Linked DNA regions of Homo sapiens. The protein of the gene in region 3 purifies or fractionates together with the protein of the main gene of each other region. This does not show direct contact. Each region holds a gene or a part of one and is shown on either strand. Other genes may lie near its edges.

Region 1 (3,500 bases), on a different chromosome or scaffold from region 3:
ACTATAAAACCATGATAAAAATAATTTCAGGGTTCTATAGCTTTTTTTTTGAGAAAAAGTCTCGCTCTGTCACACAGGCTGGAGTGCAGTGGCATGATCTTGGCTCACTGCAACCTCCGCCTCCTGGGTTCTCCTGCCTCAGCCTCTCGAGTAGCTGGGATTACAGGTACGTGCCACCATGCTCGGCTAATTTTTTATGTTTTTGGTAGAGACAGGGTTTCACCATGTCGGCGAGGCTGGTCTTGAACTCCTGACCTCAGGTGATCCACCTGCCTCGGCCTCCCAAAGTGCTGGGATTACAGGCGTGAGCTACCACACCCGACCAGGGTTCTACAGCTTTTAAGGAGAGAAAAACTCACAGCAGATATTTATAATTACGTAATGGAAACTGGTATTTCTATTAGCTCTTTTCAACCAGTGAAGAAAGAGGCACTGGATGGTTAAAAATAATATACTGTGAAGTCCAGCAGGCTGAGACTGGCAGGACAGGGAGCAGATAAAGCCAAGAGCCACAACGCTCGTGGAAGAATGTGAGAGACAAAAAAAGGCAGAGTGGCAAACCGTTTTTCTTGGGTCCCCTCCAGATAACAGCATCATCAGGACTGCTGAGCAGGAAGCCCACTGACATCACCCCCAGGTTGTCTTCCACGTACTGCAGAGGGAACAGGGTGAGGGCAAGACACGCTTTACTCAAAACCACACAGTGAGGCCCTCCCCCAGGTCTTCTGTTTGAGCTCTGACTGAAAAAAACATTTTCAGGACAAAACTACCATGTGACCTATGAGCATATTCACTCTTTGCTCCTAAATCATTTTTGGAAAAAAAAAAAAGGGTACCATGTTGGGGGATTTGAAAGAGGCACTGTATGTCCATGGGCTGCAGTGACGGCAATGACAGGGAACTCAGCTAAAATAAGTAAATGTCATCTCCTTAACTCTTTTATTTTTTTATTTTTCATTTTTTTGAGATGAAGTCTGGCTCTGTTGCCCAGGCTGGAGTGCATGGTGCAATCTCAGCTTGCTGCAGCCTCTGCCTCCCGGGTTCAAGCAATTCTCCTGCCTCAGCCTCCCGAGTAGCCAGTGTTACAGGCGCGTGCCACCATGCTCGGCTAATTTTTGTATCTTTAGTAGAGATGGGATTTCGCCATGTTGGCCAGGCTGGTCTCGAACTCCTGGCCTCAAGTGATCTGCCTGGCTTGGCCTCCTAAAGTGCTGGGATCACAGGTGTGAGCCACTGCACCCTGCCTCCTTAACTCTCTTAACCAGAGATTTACAAACTATGGACTTCAGGGCCAAATCTGGCCCACCATCTGTGTTTGTAAATAAACTTTTATTGGAATACTGTCCTGGTTGTTCAGTTACATATTACTACTTTTGTGCTACAACAGCAAGGAATGTAGGCCCACATGCTGAAAATCTTTACCGTCCCACACTTTACAGAAAAAGCCTGCCAATCACTGGTTTTAATCACATCCTCTGTGCCTCGAAAAGTACCCTAATAAATACCTATGGACCAACAAACCACAAACCCATTATGTACACACAACCACACACTACTGTGAAAATAGGGCAAAGAGGTGAAAACTCACCACTGGAGACCAGCCTGAGCCACTCTGGTGAACCTGTGTGAACATGAGCACCGATGTTCATTAGTAGAAATCATGTACCCTGGTCACATTTCATGCACAGACAAATTGTACAAAGTAAGACGATGGTTTTTTAAAATATAATTCATTGTCTTACATGGTACCACGAAATTCCTAAAAGGAGGTGAACAGCTAGGGCGTGGGTAATAAAGATGCAACTCAACTCCCTTTGTGCCCTAAGCTGGGTTATTTGGAAACTCTACTTGGATGTCTAGATAGGGAACCAAAGTTACTCAAGTTCAAATATGATGTTGTGTCTAAGGTATCTTAAAAGAGTCATAAAAATCGGCTGGGGACTGATGAGAAAATGCAGATACCTGTGGAGCAATGAGGTGGCTTTTGTAAAAGCACAGGAGTGAAGGGAATGAGCTCTCACGAAACAGCTGATTCAGAACCTGTCCCCAATCAGCTCCAGCCACAAAGGGGAGCTTCCTGGGGCAACAAGATTCAGACCTCTTCCCCCCAGCAGGTGTCCAGCAGCACACAAAGCGCACACTGAAAGTTTAATTTTCTTGATGAAGCCTTACTTTTCTCAACAGATTTACTGAGACATGATTCATAGACAATATGACTCACCCATTGAATGAGTGGCTTTCTGTACAGTCACAAGCATGCAGCCATCACCACAGTTTTATTTTTTATTTTTATTTTTGAGATGGGGTCTTGCCCTGTCGACCAGGCTGGAGTGCAGTGGCGTGATCCTGACTCACTGCAACCTCCACCTCCCAGGTTCAAGTGATTCTCCTGCCTTAGCCTCCCAGGTAGCTGAGATTATAGGTGCCCGCCACCATGCCCAGCTAATTTTTGTATTTTTTGTAGAGACGGGGTTTCACCATGTTGGCCAGCCTGGTCTCAAACTCCTGACCTCAAGTGATCCACCCGCCTTGGCCTCCCAAAGTGTTGGGATTGCAGGTGTGAGCCACTGTACCCAGTCACCACAATTTTAGAACATTTGCCTGACTCTTAAGAAGAATCCCTATACCCCTCAGCTGTCACCACCCCCCACAGTCTGTCTCACATCCTCCCAGCCTTACAGGACCCCTAATCCACTTTCTCTCACTGTGGACTGACCTATTCTGCACATTTCATGTAAGTGGAATCACACAACATGCGGTCCTCTGTGACTGACTTCGAAGTTCTATTAAAAGACACCCAGCCAGGCACAGTGGCTCACACCTGTAATCCAAACACTGCGGGAGGCTGAGGCGGGAGGATCACCTGAGGTCAGGAGTTCGAGACCAGCCTGGTCAACATGGTGAAACCCCAACTCTACTAAAAATACAAAAAATAGCTGGACGTGGTGGCGTGTGTCTGTAATGCCAGCTATTCAGGAGGCTGAGGCAGGAGAACTGCTTGAGCCCGGGAGGCGGAGGTTGTGGTGAGCCGAGATCGCGACACTGCACTCCAGCCTGGGCAACAAGAGTGAAACTCTGTCTCAATAAAATAAATAAAATAAAATAAAATAAAATAAAATAAAATAAACCCCACAAAACCATTCATTCCTATTTACACTCGTTTGCTAAGTCCATTTGTCTTAAAAGAGGGGTAAACAGGATGATCCAATAGTGCAGGAGAAGAAAATAGGGAAACTTCTATTTTCTTTTATTTTAAAATTTTCTGTTTCATGAAATAATTACGTGTGATGACAGTAGCTTATACCTTCACTGTGGCGTGTGCTACCAAATCCATTGGGGTATGTGACCAAGCCTCACAGGGTGACATCGCTCTCCTTCCCTACTCCCTCGGAAGCAAACCCCAAGGCCTTAGAAGTGCCTGCAAGGCCGGCCCCATCTGCTTCGGGCCACCCTCCAGCCCCTCTGGTCACTCCACTGAGGACACAAGGACACCTTGTGTC
Region 2 (3,500 bases), on a different chromosome or scaffold from region 3:
GCTAATTTTGTAGTTAGGATATAACAAAAGAATATGACCTTTGAATTTATAAGATTTTTTCTGTGAAAATTGTTTATATCTGGGGTTGTCTCATTATGTATTCAATATGGAAATGGGATTATATACTTCACTATAATTCATAAAGGGAAAATAATAATTTGTTATACAGAGGCAGACAGTTTGATTTACTTAGTTTATTATTCAGCAAATAAATATTTGAGTACCAGCCAAATCTGTGGTAGGAGAAGAAAAATAGTCATGGCTCCTCTTCCAGTGTAGTGGGGGTATTGAGAAATAAATTATGTAATCACACAAACAGATGCAAAATGCAATGGTGATGAAGACAGTGCTGGAAATATATGCAATACCTTGAGAGTATAAATTAAGATTTAATTTTGTTGAGGGAGTCGGGGAAGGCTTTCTTGATGCTTGAATGAGATCTGAAAGTTGAGCAAGAGTTAACTTGGCAAAAGGTGGACTGGAAGACCATTATAGGCAAAGAAAGCAGTATTGGCAAAGTGATCAGCAGGGTGGAGTATGACAAATACAAGGAACTTAAGGAAGGCCAACGTGGCTAAAATGGAAACAGCAGTAGGAAATGCACTGCAAAATGGGACTGGAGAGATAGGTATGGTGGATATTCTCCGAAGACTCTCTTTCCCCTTCAAAGAACTATGTCTTCTGATATTCAGTTTCCTCCCCTTGAATCTGGGCTGATGCCATGACTTGATTTTGACCTCTAGAATAAGGTAGAAAATATGCTGAATGACTTTGGAGGGTAGGTCAGAAGAGGTTTTACAGCTTTTATCTTGGTCTTTTGTAAAGTACACTCTGGGGAAAGTAACTTGTCATGTAAGAAGTGGAACACTCTGAGACTGCCATGCTTTATGGAACCTGAAACTAGCCTGGTAGAGAGAAAGATGCCTGACCAGCCCTCAGACATGTGAAGGGAGATGCCATCTTGGATGCCAAGCTCAATTGAGCCTTCACATGACTCCAGCCTTAGCCAAATTCTTACTACAACCACATGTGGCCAACTTGTTCTGCAGCAACAGATGACCAGAATAATGAATATGAATCAGCCCATCCAGGATATTGTTGGTCATGTTAAGGAATATTGCCATAAGCAAAGGGATGACTGGATTAAATCTTTATTATTAGTTTTTAAACCACTCTATAGATTAGAGAATGAATTAGAGGATTGGCTAGAGTAGACAAGAATAGATGACTTCCTTGATTATTGTAATAATTCGGGCAATTTAACTGAACTATTTCAGTAGCTTGGACTCAGGTGGTGGTAGAGATGGAGAGATGAAGGATGATGTTAAGGAGGTGGATTGAACAGGGCTTGATGATGGATTGCACATGGAAGTGAGGGAGAAGTGTCAAGGGTATCTCCTAGAATTCTGGCTATGCAACGTCATGGTGTGATTACCAGAACACCAGAAGACGGAGAACACCAGAAGAGGACCGAGTTTTGGGGAACACGGATAATGAACTTAGTTTTAGACATGATGTATTTCAGATGCTTTCAAATATCCAAGAAGAGATGTGACAATTGGATCTACAGATCCCATTTCTGGCAAAATGGGACCTGTAGTGTAGATCCGGTTGTCATATCTCTTCTTAGTCCTCGTTTCTTAGGACTAAGAAACGGGGCCTGGGCTGAATATATAAAATTGTGTGTTATTTGCATATTGGTGATAGCTAAATACATGGATGTTGATTCAGAACTTCCCAGGGCCCTACCATAAGATGTGCTGTGATGGAACATACATGTGCTAAGGTAGTGATTAAAGCCTTCAGGCCAGAGGCCTCCAGTTTTTTTGGTTTTGTTTTTTTTTTCTTGAGACAGGTTCTTACTCTGTTGCTCAGGCCGGAGTGCAGTGGTATACTCATAGCTCACTGCAGTCTTGACCTCTCAGGCCCAACTAATCCTCCCACCTCAGTCTCCTGAGTAGCCACCACACTCGTCTAATTTTGTTGTATTTTTTATAGAGATGAGGTTTCACCAGCTTGCCCAGGCTGGTGTCAAACTCCTGGGCTCAAGCAATTTGCCTGCCTTGGCCTCCCAAAGTGCCAGGATTACAGGCATGAGCCACCACACCAGGCCCAGCGACCTCCAGTTCTAAGATGTCATACACATATTGTCATTTTCTCTGTGTACCACAGTGTGAAAAACTTTGAGGCGCTCCATATGAGATAACCTAGGGAGAAAGAGTAATCTAAGAAAAGGAGAAAGCCTGGACAAAGCTTTGAAAAACCTTCACATTTAATGACTAGGGAGAGGAAGGTGAATGTAGCTGCCGGCAAGGTGACAAAAACCAGGAGATGATAATATCACAGAGTCAAGAGCAAGAAAATACTTCAAGAAAGGAGTCTTCATGCAAAAGTTTAAGAAAGAGCAAAGATGGTAAGGACCAAAAATGTCTTTTGAAGTTAGTGTCATGGAGATCATTAGGGACTTTAGTGACAGTTGTTTATATTTGTTTATATTCAAGCTCTTTTTAAAGAATTGAAGAATTATCTATTTCCATCTAATGTAATATTCCAATGTACCTTTATTTTAATTGTAAACTGACCTCAAAGCAGCTTAACATAAATGAAAAGGTTAATATTCCTTTACTCTGAAGCTCATTTAGGTTTTCTATGAAGCGTAATTGTCATAATTGTGTTTTAGAAGACATTGCCATATCCTTTTCACCTTTAAAAAACATGTAATCTTGAAATTGCTTGAGAAAATGTTTTCAGTGAGTAGAAAAATAAAATAAATTGACTCCTGGTTTTGAGACATATCATTTAATATGTACTCTTATGCTTTCTTAGAAATCCTACAGTAAATAGGTTTATTTTTAGTGACTCTCATGTCCTATACCTGGAGAAATCTAAGGTTAGAGATAGTGTCTTAGTTTAAAGTTAGGTAAGGTCTTAGTTCATTTTTAACTATGTTCTACACTAGGCTAGACTTTTACTGAATTAAAGAGATTGAATACATTTTGGCAGTCTTTTAAATTGCTGAGTCTCCCTGCGTACTTGCAGAGTATAAGGTTGTCTGTGGATTGGCAGGAAGAGATGACACAGATCCAGGGACTCTTACCACATGCACAACCCATTGTAAGACTAGATTAAATTCTCACTTTACTTGCCAAGGATTCGGAAACCCACTGGAAGCCAGATTGTCACAATGAGGAGAAAAGGATGCAGGATATTTGAGAGCAGCTTCCTGAAGCTCCCCCAAGCCCCAGTAGAGTGTTCACCTGCTGTGATACTGAGCAAGCAGGGCCTTGGCAAATATGAGAAGCCTATTGTGCTATGCTAATGCTAATGCTCCATTTAAGGGAATTTTTTTCAAAATGGTTCTTGAATCAAAATTTGCTTCACTGAGGCCACATCCTCTTCAAGGAAAAATAGAGCCCACACATTGGTGAAATAGATCGGCTTCTAGCTTTCCAGTATGGTGGTGAGCTCATTTGCTGTTGTAGTCTTTTTGTCATTATTCT
Region 3 (2,227 bases):
TGTCTGGGGTTTGTAGATTCTGCTTGGGTCACAGTTGAGCTTGTGGGTGGTTTTCTTATGGCAGACAATGTGCACTAGTTTTAGGTTCTCTGAGGTAAAAAGCAGGCCATAAAAATACTCCCAGTCCACTTCTCTTCCATCTTGTTCCTTAATTGCTTCCACCAGTGTAGGAATGATGGTGCGTTTCTTTTCTATTCTGCAAAGTAAGGTTAGAGACATCATTTTCTGTGGTCACAGTGCCACAGGCAACAGGTCATAGCAGTGTATTGCAGTCACAGCTCTTCACAAATTCCCCTAAGTGCTATCACGGACACACGGCCGCACCTACTGGCCAGGTTTGTTGAGCAGAGCCTGATGCAAGCAGCCTGGCTCCTCTTACTTTTTAAAACTTGACTTGTGGCCGGGCACGGCGGCTCACGCCTGTCATCCCAACACTTTGGGAGGCCGAGGCGGGTGGATCACTTGAGGTTGGGAGTTCGAGACCAGCTTGGCCAACATAGTGAAACCCCATCTCTACTAAAAATACAAAAAATTGGCTGGGCTTGGTGGTGGGCACCTGTTATCCCAGCTACTTGGGAGGCTGAGGCAGGAGAATCACTTGAACCCTGGAGGTGGAGGTTGCAGTGAGCCAAGATCACGCCACCGCACTCCAGCCTAGGCAACAAAAGCAAAACACCATCTCAAAAAAAAAAAAAAAAGACTCGTGTCACTGTTCAGAATACTGAAAAGTACGCAGAAAATAAAGGGGGTCAACCACCTTTCCATCACTTACAGTCACCCACCATCAACAACTGGCTTAACTGCCTCCACGTTTCATCTACGTATACATTTACCCCCAAAAAATTACATGATAGAACATGAAAGTTTTACAAACAGAGCCTTACAAAGGAAGCTGAAGTCACTTTTGATACCACTTGTAATCTTATGTCCCTCCTTCCCCTCAGAGGTAATCACTATTAAGGGTTTGCTATTGATCTTTCCAATCCTAATCTTATACCGTTATATGCATATATGCGTATCTGTTTAAGAAACAAATGAGGCCAGGCGCAGTGGCTCACACCTGTAATCCCAGCACTTTGGGAGGCTGAGGCGTGCGGATCACCTGAGGTCAGGAGTTCAACACCAGCCTGGCCAAGATGGCGAAACCTCATCTCTACTAAAAATACAAAAATTAGCTGGGCATGGTGATGCATGCCTGTAATCCCAGCTGCCCAGGAGGCTGAAGCAGGATAACTGCTTGAACCCTGGAGGCAGAGGTTGCAGAGAGAAAGATTGTGCCACCGCACTCCAGCCTGGGCAACAGAGTGAGATTCTGTCTGAAAAAAAAAAGAAAACAAAAAACTACATGAGGCTAGGCGTGGTGGCTCACGTCTGTAATTCTAACACTTTGAGAGGATGAGGTGGGTGATCACTTGAGGCCAGGAGTTTGAGACCAGCCTGGCCAACATGGTGAAACCCCACCTCTACAAAAATGACAAAAAAATTAGCCAGGCATAGTGGCGCACGCCTGTAATCCCAGCTACTACTCAGGAGGCTGAGGCACGAAAATCACTTGAACCCAGGAGGCGGAGGTTGCAGTGAGCCAAGATCGTACCACTGCATTCTAGCCTGGTTGGAGTGAGACTGTCCCAAACACACACGCACACACATACACACACAACATGATGTTGTTTCACTTATAAACCATTTGGAAGACTGTGCAGTAACAAGTGGGGTTTAGAGACCCCACGGCCAGGAGGGCTTATGGTGGGTGTTGAGTGAGCTAAACTGGTGCAGACCCCTCTCCCTACAACCCACAAAATGCTGAGCAAAAGTCGCCTTTTTTTTTTTTTTGAAACAGAGTCTTGCTCTGTCACCCAGGCTGGAGTGCAGTGGCACGATCTCAGCTCACGGTAATGTCCGCCTCCTGGGTTCAAGTCATTCTCCTGCCTCAGCCTCCTGAGTAGCTGGGATTACAGGCGTGCGCCACCACACCCAGCTAATTTTTGTATTTGTATTTTGTATTTTTAGTAGATGGGGTTTCACCGTGTTGGCCAGGCTGGCCTTGAACTCCTGACCTTGGCCTCCCACAGTGCTGAGATTATAGGCATGAGCCACCACACCCAGCCAAAAGTCACCTTGTTAAAATACTTAGTTGAGATCAAAAGAAAGGGGCTCCCCAGCTGCCAGAAACCAAAGAGAAATTAGTGCACACAGGCAAGCTATGGTCCAGGGGCCTACCAGGGTT

What was found. The genes of interacting proteins can lie anywhere in the genome.
Region 1: the proteins of DFFB (region 3) and NUBP1 fractionate together in Homo sapiens (co-fractionation; one large-scale study listed by BioGRID). This does not show direct contact.
Region 2: the proteins of DFFB (region 3) and PIP4P2 purify together in Homo sapiens (co-immunoprecipitation; one large-scale study listed by IntAct). This does not show direct contact.

Annotation. Positions count from the first base shown.
Region 1 is NC_000016.10:10,753,842-10,757,341, reverse strand, and holds part of NUBP1 (cytosolic Fe-S cluster assembly factor NUBP1), read right to left. Parts: intron 1,622-3,500; coding exon 1,589-1,621; intron 653-1,588; coding exon 562-652; intron 25-561; exon of another isoform or gene 1-24. UniProt on the Homo sapiens protein: Component of the cytosolic iron-sulfur (Fe/S) protein assembly (CIA) machinery. Required for maturation of extramitochondrial Fe-S proteins.
Region 2 is NC_000008.11:91,034,360-91,037,859, reverse strand, and holds part of PIP4P2 (type 2 phosphatidylinositol 4,5-bisphosphate 4-phosphatase), read left to right. Parts: intron 1-3,500. UniProt on the Homo sapiens protein: Catalyzes the hydrolysis of phosphatidylinositol-4,5-bisphosphate (PtdIns-4,5-P2) to phosphatidylinositol-4-phosphate (PtdIns-4-P).
Region 3 is NC_000001.11:3,881,476-3,883,702, reverse strand, and holds part of DFFB (DNA fragmentation factor subunit beta), read right to left. Parts: intron 197-2,227; coding exon 1-196. UniProt on the Homo sapiens protein: Nuclease that induces DNA fragmentation and chromatin condensation during apoptosis. Degrades naked DNA and induces apoptotic morphology.